3 linked regions of the Homo sapiens genome follow. The protein of the gene in region 2 purifies or fractionates together with the protein of the main gene of each other region. This does not show direct contact. Each region holds a gene or a part of one and is shown on either strand. Other genes may lie near its edges.

Region 1 (3,777 bases), on a different chromosome or scaffold from region 2:
TGGGCATTCTGGTAATTGAGATGTTTACACTGTTGTTTACTTTTTAATCTCTAAATATTAGGTCATTCTTAAGACCTTCATTATTTTGCTTCTTGTGTCCATCAGACACCATATACCATACTATCATATTTAGTATGAATGAAATTATAAATGCATCAGAAATCCCTGACATTTTCTGAAAATGGACGCATCGAAGAAAATGCAGAAATAAACGCTTGCTATCTCTTCTCTCCATGGCTCTAGATAAGTGTAATGTTAATTTCCATTTTAACTCTCCTTAAAACCTACAGAGACTCTACCTCAATCTGTGTATGGTTATGATTTATATAGAAAGGAGTTTGCAGTTTAAGAAAATATTTTACATGAAAATCTGAAAGTGATAAATGAGAAACTCACTACTTTGTTTAAAAAGGATTCACCTTAGAAGGAAGTGAGACACAAAAAGTACATACTGTATCATCCCATATGTATGAGGGCCAAGAAAAGGCAAAGTTAACCTCTAGTGATGGAAAACAATGAGTGATTTCCTAGGTCCAGGGCAATGGTGGGATCGCACAAAGGGGCATGAAGAAACATTTTGGGCTGATGGAAATGTTTTCTCTCTAGATGGGTGTGGTGGTTTCATGGGTATGTGCTCTGTCAAAACTCATCAAATTGTACACTTTAAATGTCTGGTTTATTATACATAAATGCTATGTCAGAAAAAGTTGTTTATAAAAGGACTAGCCTTAGGAGTCACTAAAATGAGACATTATGAGTATTATTTATTGAGCCTTAAAGTAAGATTTAAATATGATTAATTCCACAAGTGAAAAGGTAAGTCTACCTGTAAGTTTCTTCAAGGTGAGATGTGGGTGAAATATGATCATGAGAAAGCTTTTCAACAGGGGAAGAAGAAGTGATATCAGTGCATTTTAGTAATATTAGCATTCATATAAGATTGGTATCGCTTTATTAATGTGGAATGTACAGGCAGTAAAACAGGTTATTTAATTAGTTGAAATTATCTAAAATAGATCTTAAGAGTTCACTTAGAACACTTTTCTGGACTGCCTTTCAAAGTAGATAACATCAGACACAGTGATAACATAATAACTCATTCAAAACTAAATTGTACATCACCTATGATATCAACATTTTGTATTCACTGAAGGAAATTATATTTGAAAGTGTTTGCCTGTACATTATTTGACAAAGTTGTGGGGATTTTTTGTTTTTTGTTTGTTTGTTTTCTGTTTTTGTTTTTGTTTTTCAGATGGAATCTCACTCTGTCACCCAGGTTGGAGTGCAGTGGCACAATCTCGGCTCACTGCAACCTCCACCTCCTGGGTTCAAGCGATTCTCCTGCCTCAGCCTCCCAAGTAGCTGGGATTACAGGCATGCACTACCACGCCCAGCTAATTTTTGTATTTTTAGTAGAGAAGGGGTTTCGCCATGTTGGCCAGGCTGGTCTCGAACTCCTGACCTCAGGTGATCCACCTGCCTCGGCCTCCCAAAGTGCTAGGGTTACAGGCAAGAAATTGTGTTATTTTTTAAATTTGCCATGCTCAGATATTGGATACCAGGGTGATTTCTTGGGAAATCTAATATGAGGAATGAAGCATTAATTATAAGACCTGATTTTAAATGCTACGTACCAATTAATGTATACCCTTTACATATTCTCCTCTATTGTATTTGGAGAAAATTTTCCAATCTATGAGATAATGCTGATGAATTATTTTCTTAGTGGTCAATATAAAAATGAATGAGGAACTATTCCTAGAAATAATATTGAATCTAATTAATGCCACCTTGTCATATGTGCATGTGGAACATAAGAGTAGCTAAAAAGAGGCCGGGCGCAGTGGCTCATGCCTGTAATCCCAGCATTTTGGGAGGCCAAGGTGGGCGGATCATGAGGTCAGGAGATGGAGACCATCCTGGCTAACAACGTGAAACCCCATCTCTACTAAAAATACAAAAAATTAGCCGGGCGTGGTGGCACGTGCCTGTAGTCCCAGCTACTCAGGAGGCTCAGGCAGGAGAATCGCTTGAACCCAGGGAGCGGAGGTTGCAGTGAGCCGAGATCGCACCACTACGATCACAGCCTGCGCGACGGAGCAAGACTCTGTCTAAAATAAAAAAAAAGAGTAGTTAAAAAGAGAGAAATAATATTTTCTGAAATAACAACACAGGTACTGTTGCAAAACTCAACTAAGTTAGAAATCACTTGCCCTGTCATTTGTTATGCTTACGTGTTAGTAAAATTGTTAGTATTCTATATTGGTAATACAGGAACCCTTGCTGATTTAGCTGTTATCTTGGCGTGTTTATTCTGGATTCATAGTAGGAATGAGCACCTTGTTAGAAGAAGGTTGGTCAAAATGGAAGGAGGAGGTGGAGGTTGGTTAGGTTATTTGAATTCCAAATGGCAGTAATGGGTTCCTTAATGATTAATGCTGTACTTAGGCCACCAGCCTATGCCTTAACCACTCCCTTTTCATCTTCACTTAAGGGCTCAACTACAACCCCAGGCTCTGACTCTGGCTCTGGCTCTGGCTCTGGCTCCAATTCCGACTGCGTTTCTGGCTCCAGCTCCAGCTCGATGTCAAGGTCAGGCACTGCCATAGGCTCTGATCCTGGGGCAGGCTCTGGGGCAGGCTCCTGAGTAGGCTTTGGCTCATAGTCTGGTTCTTGGATGGTATCAGGGCCAGTCTCATGAATGGAAGATGGTAGAGTTACTTCTAGTTGGGTAGCGTCTTCTCTTGGCATTGCTTCGCTTTCTCCCCTTGGGTTTATCTTTGTCATTGGCCTGCAAGAAAGAAGGCCCAGAAAAGAACAAGTTAGGGAGATGCTAACTTTGAAATTTCATGTGAAACCATATGTTCTGTAGCTTCAATGACCATAGGTCCCAGACTTCAGGAAATCTGTTATTTCTGATATTCTGACTCATTGTCAGGCCATAGGTCATTTTGGATTCAGAAAGGTTAGGTCTCAACAATATCATGAAAGTTTAAGAAAGAGCAGTGTTTCAAGGTGGGAAAATAATGTCAGAATGAAAGAGTCTAAGAATCTAATAAGGTCTTTAAGGTCCAAATTCATAGCTCTGATGTATCGCTATTTCTCACTCCATCTAGTACAATACTTGGCACCTGGTTGATACCCAATAGATAGTTGTAGAAGCAAGGAGATGAAAAAAAATGAATGAGTGAGATACACACTAGGAAAGAAATAGAGTGATTAAGAGCATGAGCTGTGGGCTGGGCCACATTCTAACTTCTGTGTTCCCTGGGCACTGTCCTTGTGGGTCTCTTGTTCCATAAAAAAATTTAAAATTATATTTCATGACTATGTTGGTATTAAGACAAGTATGTTAGTATTATATATGAAAATGTTTTCTTGGACCTAAAACTGTTGTGATAGCTAAATGAGTTGATGTACATAAAGTGCTTAGAACAGAGCCTGGCACACAGCACTCAATAAATAGCAGCCATCATCATTCTTTTTTAAATTCAATGAGAGTAAACAGAAAGATACCTCTGATATCTTATACTAAAAGGAGTGCTTAGGAATTGATGACTGAAAAAGACATGCCTGAGAAATGTTTGTATTCAAGTAAAGACAACAAAATGAAGGCTTACTCAAGTTCCGCGATGGTCTTAGAATTTCTTTCTTTTGCCTTTGCTTTTGCCTTATTCCTTGCGAAGCACACAACAGAGATGATGATGGCGGCACCTACCAGGCTACCAATCAAGGCCCCAACAATGATTCCAACTTCTGGATCTGAAGGATACA
Region 2 (3,657 bases):
AATTTAGCCACTTAACCAAGTAAGGAAAATAGCCTGCTGTTTACAATAATGAACATTAAAAAGTCATGCTGAATGGCATCTGGGTGTCCTCAGGTAACCAGCTACCCACAAAGAGGAGTTTTAATTAGGCCAACAGCATATTGTTCCTTTTCTGTTTTTAAGATTATTCCTTAAGGGGTCAGGGGTGGTAACCCACAATACGTTGGAATTCCATATGAGTCATCTCCTTGAGTAACTTACTATATAAGAAAATTTCTGGATGACCCATCAGAAGCTTTTACAAGGTAAAGAAAAATAAATTAGCCTCAATTTTATATACACGCAAAAAAATGACTTGTGGGGTATTTCAAATACTCCTTATCCTAGGAAATTAAACTGGCAGAAATTTTACAAATTAACTAAATCAATAGTGAATGAGAACCTAGGAGAAAAATGGAAAAATGAGTGGTGGCAAATAAATCAGTAATGAAGCCATTAGAGTAATTGAAATAAAAGCTACTAAAAATATTGAAAATATATATTTGAAGACCCTCCAGCTAGGGGAGCTGCCAGCAGTGGCCAACGAGATGGTGCTGTGGAGCAAGAAGCAGCCCAGCTTTATCACCTTTATCACAGCTGCCCAGCCAAGGGGATGTGGGACACGGGGGTTTAGAACAGGAATACAAAAAGGTTATGAGGTCATAGCTGATGAAAATGAATTGGAATAATTTTCATGATGTTTATATCTTCATATATTTTTAAATGTTTACATTTCACTTAAAGTGCCATGAGAAATTTCACCTATTGCAAAGTGGTCTTATCCATCTCCTTGATTTAGGTACCTTTTAGACTTGTTCTTGCTGTTTAACTTTGGTGAATGCAAGAGATGTGCTGAGGAAAAAAGATACAGAACTTCCTTCTGGAGATGTTGTAGATCCAGTACAAAAAGCCACAAGAAAATCCTAGAGAAAAAAAAAAAAAAGTCATCCTACTTAAAGTGGATTTTAAAAGATGAAAGAAATTAAATTAGTTCAGTGTAATGGCAAGTGAAATGATCGTACTTAAGAGATTCTTTTAATCAAGTGTTAGCTTGGAAGGGTTTAAATAAGTGTGGTAATTATTGTTTACAACAGAGCTTGGAGCATACCTTTGCAGTCTGTCCATAGTGTGATTAACTGTGCACCAAGACATATGCTAGAAAAAAGTGTTGTGGTAGGTGATGTCATGGGACAGGCTTTTGTTTGTTTGTTTGTTTGTTTGTTTGAGACAGAGTTTTGCTCTTGTTGCCCAGGCTGGAGTGCAATGGTGAGATCTCAGCTTACTGCAACCTCTGCCTCCCGGGTTCAAGCAATTCTGTCTCAGCCTCCCGAGGAGCTGGGACTACAGGCATGCACCACCATGCCTGGCTAATTTTGTATTTTTGGTAAAGATGGGATTTCTCCATGTTGGTCAGGCTGGTCTGGAATTCCTGACCCCAGGTGATGTGCCTGCCTTGGCCTCCCAAAGTGCTGGGATTATAGACTTGAGCCACCGCACCCGGCCCAGTGGGACAGGCTTTTAAAATAAAGACTTCTAGAAAGTTATGTGCATTAAAATTAAAAATAACAGATCATGTAATTAGAATGGAACAGCATTCTGGATTGACCAGGTTAAAAGAGCTGCCATGACTCCAGGCCAAGTGGTCATCTCAGGTGCTCCTTGTGCATATAGAGTTAGATGGCTGGAGTTCCTCTTAGCCAGGATTAAATAAGACAACTGTAGTTTATCTTGTCATTGAAGTGCTTAGTGATTAGTTTTGAGTTTATGGCAGGTCTGATATGACCCATGGCATACTCAGCTGGAAGCACAATTTTAACTGGTGTACTAAGAAATTTTCTAAAGACAAATGGACAGAAGGAAAGGTGATTAGACTCTTCCAGTCAGAATGCCAACAATAAACAGAGGCTACTTTTAGGAAATTGAAACATAATATGCTAGAATGGTTAATTGGGGAGAAGAAAACTTAGAAATGTCCATTCGGATTTGGCAGTGCTGTGGTACTTGGGAAATGATCACATTTCCATGTTGGAAATGTGCTTCATAGAGCACATCTTATACACTTCCAAAAGGGACAGAACAAATTATCAATAAAAATAACAAGACTAATTTAAGAATTTCTTGGATATGATTTCCTTAGGTGTTATAAACGCATATTATGGAGAATATCATCAAGACTTGTCTTAAGAAACAAACTACAGGGCAAACCTTTGTCTTGGTACCTTGAGAATTATCCTGATTTACAAATTTCATGATGATGATTTATTGCTGTTTCAGATAACTATAAAAAGTGAAAACAAATCGAAATCTAGATAATAGTGGTATAACTAGAAAAGAGAATGAAAAGGTTGGAATTGTTAACTGTTATGGAATGGTAGATTTTCTCTCATATGGCCAGCCAAGAACAGGCAATCTTTGCTTAGTGTATTAGCAAAGAACAGGCAGTCTTTAATTAGTGTATCTGTATTGACGCTTCTGATAAAGACATACCCGAGACTGGGAAGAAAAAGAGGTTTAATTGGACTTACAGCTCCACATGGCTGGGGAGGCTTCAGAATCATGGCAGGAGGCAAAAGGCACTTCTTTACATGGTGGCAGCAAGAGAAAATGAGGAAGAAGCAAAAGCAGAAACCCCTGATAAACCCATCAGATCTCGTGAGACTATCACGAGAATAGCAGGGGGAAGACCAGCCCCCATGATTCAGTTACCTCTCACAAGTCCCTCCCACAACACGTGAGAATGCTGGGAGATATAATTCAAGTTGAGATTTGGGTGGGGACACAGCTAAACCATATCACTTAGATACCTCCCAACCCAGAGTCCCTGACACAATGTTGAAATGCTGTTACGTAAAAGACAACTGACTTTGGAAGTGAGATCCAATAAAATAACATGTGAACAGTCATGTGCCCTGCATGGAAACTTCAATGTACCTACTCCCAGCAGGGACTTCTTTGTCACCCTTCCAGAAATATTCTGAGACCAAACACACATAAAGAGGAAAAAAATTAGGATTGACTAGGCTACCTCAGCAAACATTTGTGCTACGTTCTTAAGTAGCAAAAAAGGAAAAGTACTTTTCTGTTTTATTAGCTTTAGACAAGTCTTCATGTCCAAGGAGGTGAAACTATACACTAGTAAAACCAAGCACACTGACTTCTGTAAGACTGAAAAGCCTTTCATTCATCATTTTAAATATTCAGACAATGAAAACTTAACAAAATGAGCTCTCTGAAGAGCTACACCTGTTATGATTTACTTGCACGTTAGTAATTTCTGCTGAAAGTGCTGATTAGGACTGGTAAACCAGATATTAAATATTGATATAAGAGCAAAAGAAGCAAAACTTGTACCAGATTCAGTATCTTAAGTAACAATTATAACAACAAAGATATGTTAAACAGAGTTTAAAGGAAATTAACTCAGAACTGTGAGAAGTACAATTTGATATAGTATCAAATTTCTATATAGATTTTGTAACTTAGTGGAAAAAAATAACCAATTTCAATGACATTTGTTTTCATCTGTGATAGTCATGATTTTCCCCTTAAGATGCCAAAATTGTGCTAAAATTTTTGACTTTTGGAACATTAGTTCATTTCTTTCCATTCGATTTTTAATTTCATTCAGTTTGTGAGCTG
Region 3 (3,657 bases), on a different chromosome or scaffold from region 2:
TTTAATTTTTCTTTTTCAAGAATTCCTATAGCAGTTTTAAAGTGAACTTGATTAATGTACCAAGATGAAAATCAGAACTTTTTCCTTAAAAAATAATTATGCTGATAATATCCTTTTTTTCTCCCCTCCCCCCGCAAAAGTTGTTTTTATTTTGATTTGGTACCCACAAGGGTCTAGAAATTTAGATTCAGTCAATTAGGAATATTTCGAGATCTAAGCATCCAACTCTATATATCATTCACCTCTTTCATTTATTTCCCCTCTTCATCATCCTGTTGCCTTGTATTATCGTTCCACAACTAGAAGGATAAGGAAAAGAAATACAGGTCAGCCTCTTCAGCTAATTAGTAGTTTTGGTAAAATATATAGCCAAGGAGATGGCTGATAATATGGCTAAAAGGGATGTTTTTACTTATCTGTGGTTTTTGGTTAGCCAGGTGCACCGAGGTTCCTTTGATGATGGATCATCTATAATGAACAACGTTATCACAGGACATCTTCTCCATAAGCTGCTATTTATTCACTCAAAATATAAATATATTATACACCTTTTATGTAAAAGGCAGTCTAGCTCTCAAGAAGTGTGCAAGCTTGGCAGAGCCAATGAGATACACGTTCAACTAGGACAGAAATACTATCTTAACAAATGTCATTCCCAGAAATAATCAACACAGGTGAAAGAATTAGAGATGGGGAAAAGTCAAAAAATGAGAGAGGGAAAGGTTGCAGTGTGGAAAATAGCATTTAAATTCTAACCAAACTAGAATCAGACATATAGGAAAATCTAAAATAAAATCTGGGAGCCTTGAAGCCGGAGGAAGAATTAAGGAAATCTGTGTTCGGGAGGGAAAAGCAGAAGGGGCCTTCAAGTACAACTGAATTAAATCAAGATGGACTGCCAGTTCTAGAAAAAGACAAGTTTCTCCATTCCCCGTAAATGCTCAGGAGTAAACCCCAGTAGTCACAGCTGGGCCAGTCCCAACTTATACTCTGGGCAATCGAAACTCATTTGCCAAGCAGAGACTTGGACCATACTGCCTAGAACATGCCTACCATTCTTTCTTTATTCTTTTGAAAGAGTACTGCCACTCAAGTGACTTTTGCAATTGAGAGTCTGATTATCATCTCTATGCTGAAAATCCTTCAGATGTTTTCTCCATTAGGAATAATCCTCATCACCAGCTCTAAAGGCCTGCACAGTTGGCCCTTCCCATCCTCTTTAGCCTGTCTTCCTCATTATTTTTCTCCAGCATTTGACCTTCCCTACGTGCTGCCATGCTGCAACCTTGAAGACTTTTGCATGCTCTGACCTCCCTCTGAAAGTGCACCTTCCTCTACTATTTAACTGCTTAATTTCTTCCTCAACCCTAAACTTCTCCTTGATAGCACTTAACACAGTTGAAGTTTTGTATTTTTGTGTGGTTATTGATCATCTCCCCCACTAAAATGTAAGCTTTTAGAAGGGAGAAACCATCTCAGCTTTTGCACGTAGTGGGCTTAAAACATCTTTTGTGAATGGATGCAGACATTTAGGTGCTCATTAGGAAAGCTGAACAGTATGGTGGTTAATTTCAATATCATTTCCACTCATCTACTTACCTGTGGATCCCTCTGTAGTAAGAGTACATTAAATAAAGAAGTTTCTGTTTCTCATGAAAAAAGCCAAGCTTGTATGGTGAGCTGGGCAAAATCTTCAAGGGCACTTCCATCTTTTTTGCTGTGCGGCTATAAGCCCAGTGAAAAATCAGGGGCTTTATTACTAAAGAAAAAGGAGAGGACAGATATCTGGGCAATTTGCAGGCTTTGCAGTAATGCTTTATAAAGGTATTGTAGTAAGGATTAAATATTATATATAAGACTCTCTTAGCATATAGTCAGCACTCAATTAACTATGGCTGTTATTCTCTCTTCAACATATAGAGAATAAATTACTTACCTGAAAGACCTTCCTGCCCTTGGTTCTTTGGGCTTTTTTCAGCTCTTCATTTCTTTGTCTCTTTGTGCATTCATAGGTCAGATTACTTGGTTTACTATGTTTGTATACAGTTTACTGTAAATGTAGGGAGTACATTTCTGTTTTCCTTTTGATAGTTCATGGAGTAGTAGCCCCTCTCTCACGCCATTGGGACTTTGTTCTTCTTAGCCTCTTCATAATTCCTGTTTATGTAAAGTCAGCTTCCCCACAGCCAAGTTAAACTCTCTTAATCAAGTAGAGCCACGGATTTATTTTCTTCTCCTTGTGGGTGGTGCCATTTGAGTGTTGATCTGTCTTTCATAAAGCTGTACCTTGACATGTAAGGGGTCAGTAGTAGGGAGTGAGGAGGGATGTGAAGAGAGAATCAGTGAAAATGAAGTAGGCCAGTGCATGCTTATCTCTGACAGTTCTCTTTATTTCCTGTGAAGGCGATTGACCGAGGCCTGGCTTTTGAACTTGTCTATAGCCCTGCTATCAAAGACTCCACAATGAGAAGGTATACAATTTCCAGTGCCCTCAATTTGATGCAAATCTGCAAAGGAAAGGTATGGTTCTATAATTTTAGGATGTTTTTCGCATCTGGCAGTTTATTATTAGTAGTACACTGGAATTGTCAAACTGACTCCTTTTCCTTAAAGCAGAATGTTCTCATAGCATAGGAACAAATTCTGCCATTTCAGTGAGCTCTGCAAATTTTAAGGGAAAGAAAAATACCAAGGGAAGAATAATGTAAGGGAGAAAAAGATGTGTTGGAAGCCATATCTTTTGATAAAAATTTGCAATTTACATACTGTGAAAGAAAAGTCTAGAATAACAATGGTCCTCACTGAGTTGAATTAAGATATGTGACCTTTTCATCTTGTTTTTTAAACTTAATTCACCTTTACTAAGATCTGTTAGGAAAACATATTTTGTTTTTTATTACAGATTGCCTTTAGTTTGACATGAAGTCTTTTCATTTTTTTCACCTTAATTATTTACCTTATCTTTAAAAGAAGTTGGTATTTGAGCCTTAAATGTTAAAATATGATTACTGGCTATTTATATTATGAAACTCCTTTTTTTACATTTATCTAAGATTAATATTAGTCACTTTCTATTTTGTAGAATGTAATTATATCTAGTGCTGCAGAAAGGGTAAGTCTAGCATGAAGTACTTTGTTTTCATCTTTCAGGTTATAAAACTTTTCAGTTTCTAGGGGATAAATTAAAATAGTAAATGAATATTTGTTGCATTTTTTTCTATTTTAACTGCATTTGCTCATTGTAATTGCTAAATAGTAAAATTTATCCCCACTTTCTTTAGGCTTCAACTTTTGTTTATATAATCAGTTTTTCTTTTATACTGTTACAAAATGCCTTTCAAGCTTCTCTTATATTTTCAAAAGCTATGAAACCCATCAAAATTATAAGGACTTAAATTTATGTAATTTTTTTATTTTTGGATACTTAAATTTTCTATTAATTTGCTATAAGTCATTGAAATGTTATAAATAATTTTCTCATATCTACTCTTTGTTCATTTTATTTCAGCCTTTAGAAATAAGAGGGCCATATGACGTGGCAAATCTGTATCCTTTTCTGAGTAAAAAGTTGTTGACATTGTCTTTCAGGAAATTTTGAATTTGAAGTCGTATTATAGTTGAACATGTATTTTTCTCAACCTTTTACTGTAAGTTTAC

What was found.
Region 1: the proteins of HEATR6 (region 2) and VSIG1 purify together in Homo sapiens (co-immunoprecipitation; one large-scale study listed by IntAct). This does not show direct contact.
Region 3: the proteins of HEATR6 (region 2) and RPP30 fractionate together in Homo sapiens (co-fractionation; one large-scale study listed by BioGRID). This does not show direct contact.

What each region holds. Positions count from the first base shown.
Region 1 is NC_000023.11:108,076,065-108,079,841, reverse strand, and holds the end of VSIG1 (V-set and immunoglobulin domain-containing protein 1 isoform 2 precursor), read right to left. Parts: intron 3,766-3,777; coding exon 3,624-3,765; intron 2,795-3,623; coding exon 2,461-2,794; 3' UTR 658-2,460; downstream 1-657.
Region 2 is NC_000017.11:60,061,892-60,065,548, reverse strand, and holds part of HEATR6 (HEAT repeat-containing protein 6), read left to right. Parts: intron 1-3,657. UniProt on the Homo sapiens protein: Amplification-dependent oncogene.
Region 3 is NC_000010.11:90,892,372-90,896,028, forward strand, and holds part of RPP30 (ribonuclease P protein subunit p30), read left to right. Parts: intron 1-2,403; coding exon 2,404-2,520; intron 2,521-3,082; coding exon 3,083-3,112; intron 3,113-3,508; coding exon 3,509-3,546; intron 3,547-3,657. UniProt on the Homo sapiens protein: Component of ribonuclease P, a ribonucleoprotein complex that generates mature tRNA molecules by cleaving their 5'-ends. Also a component of the MRP ribonuclease complex, which cleaves pre-rRNA sequences.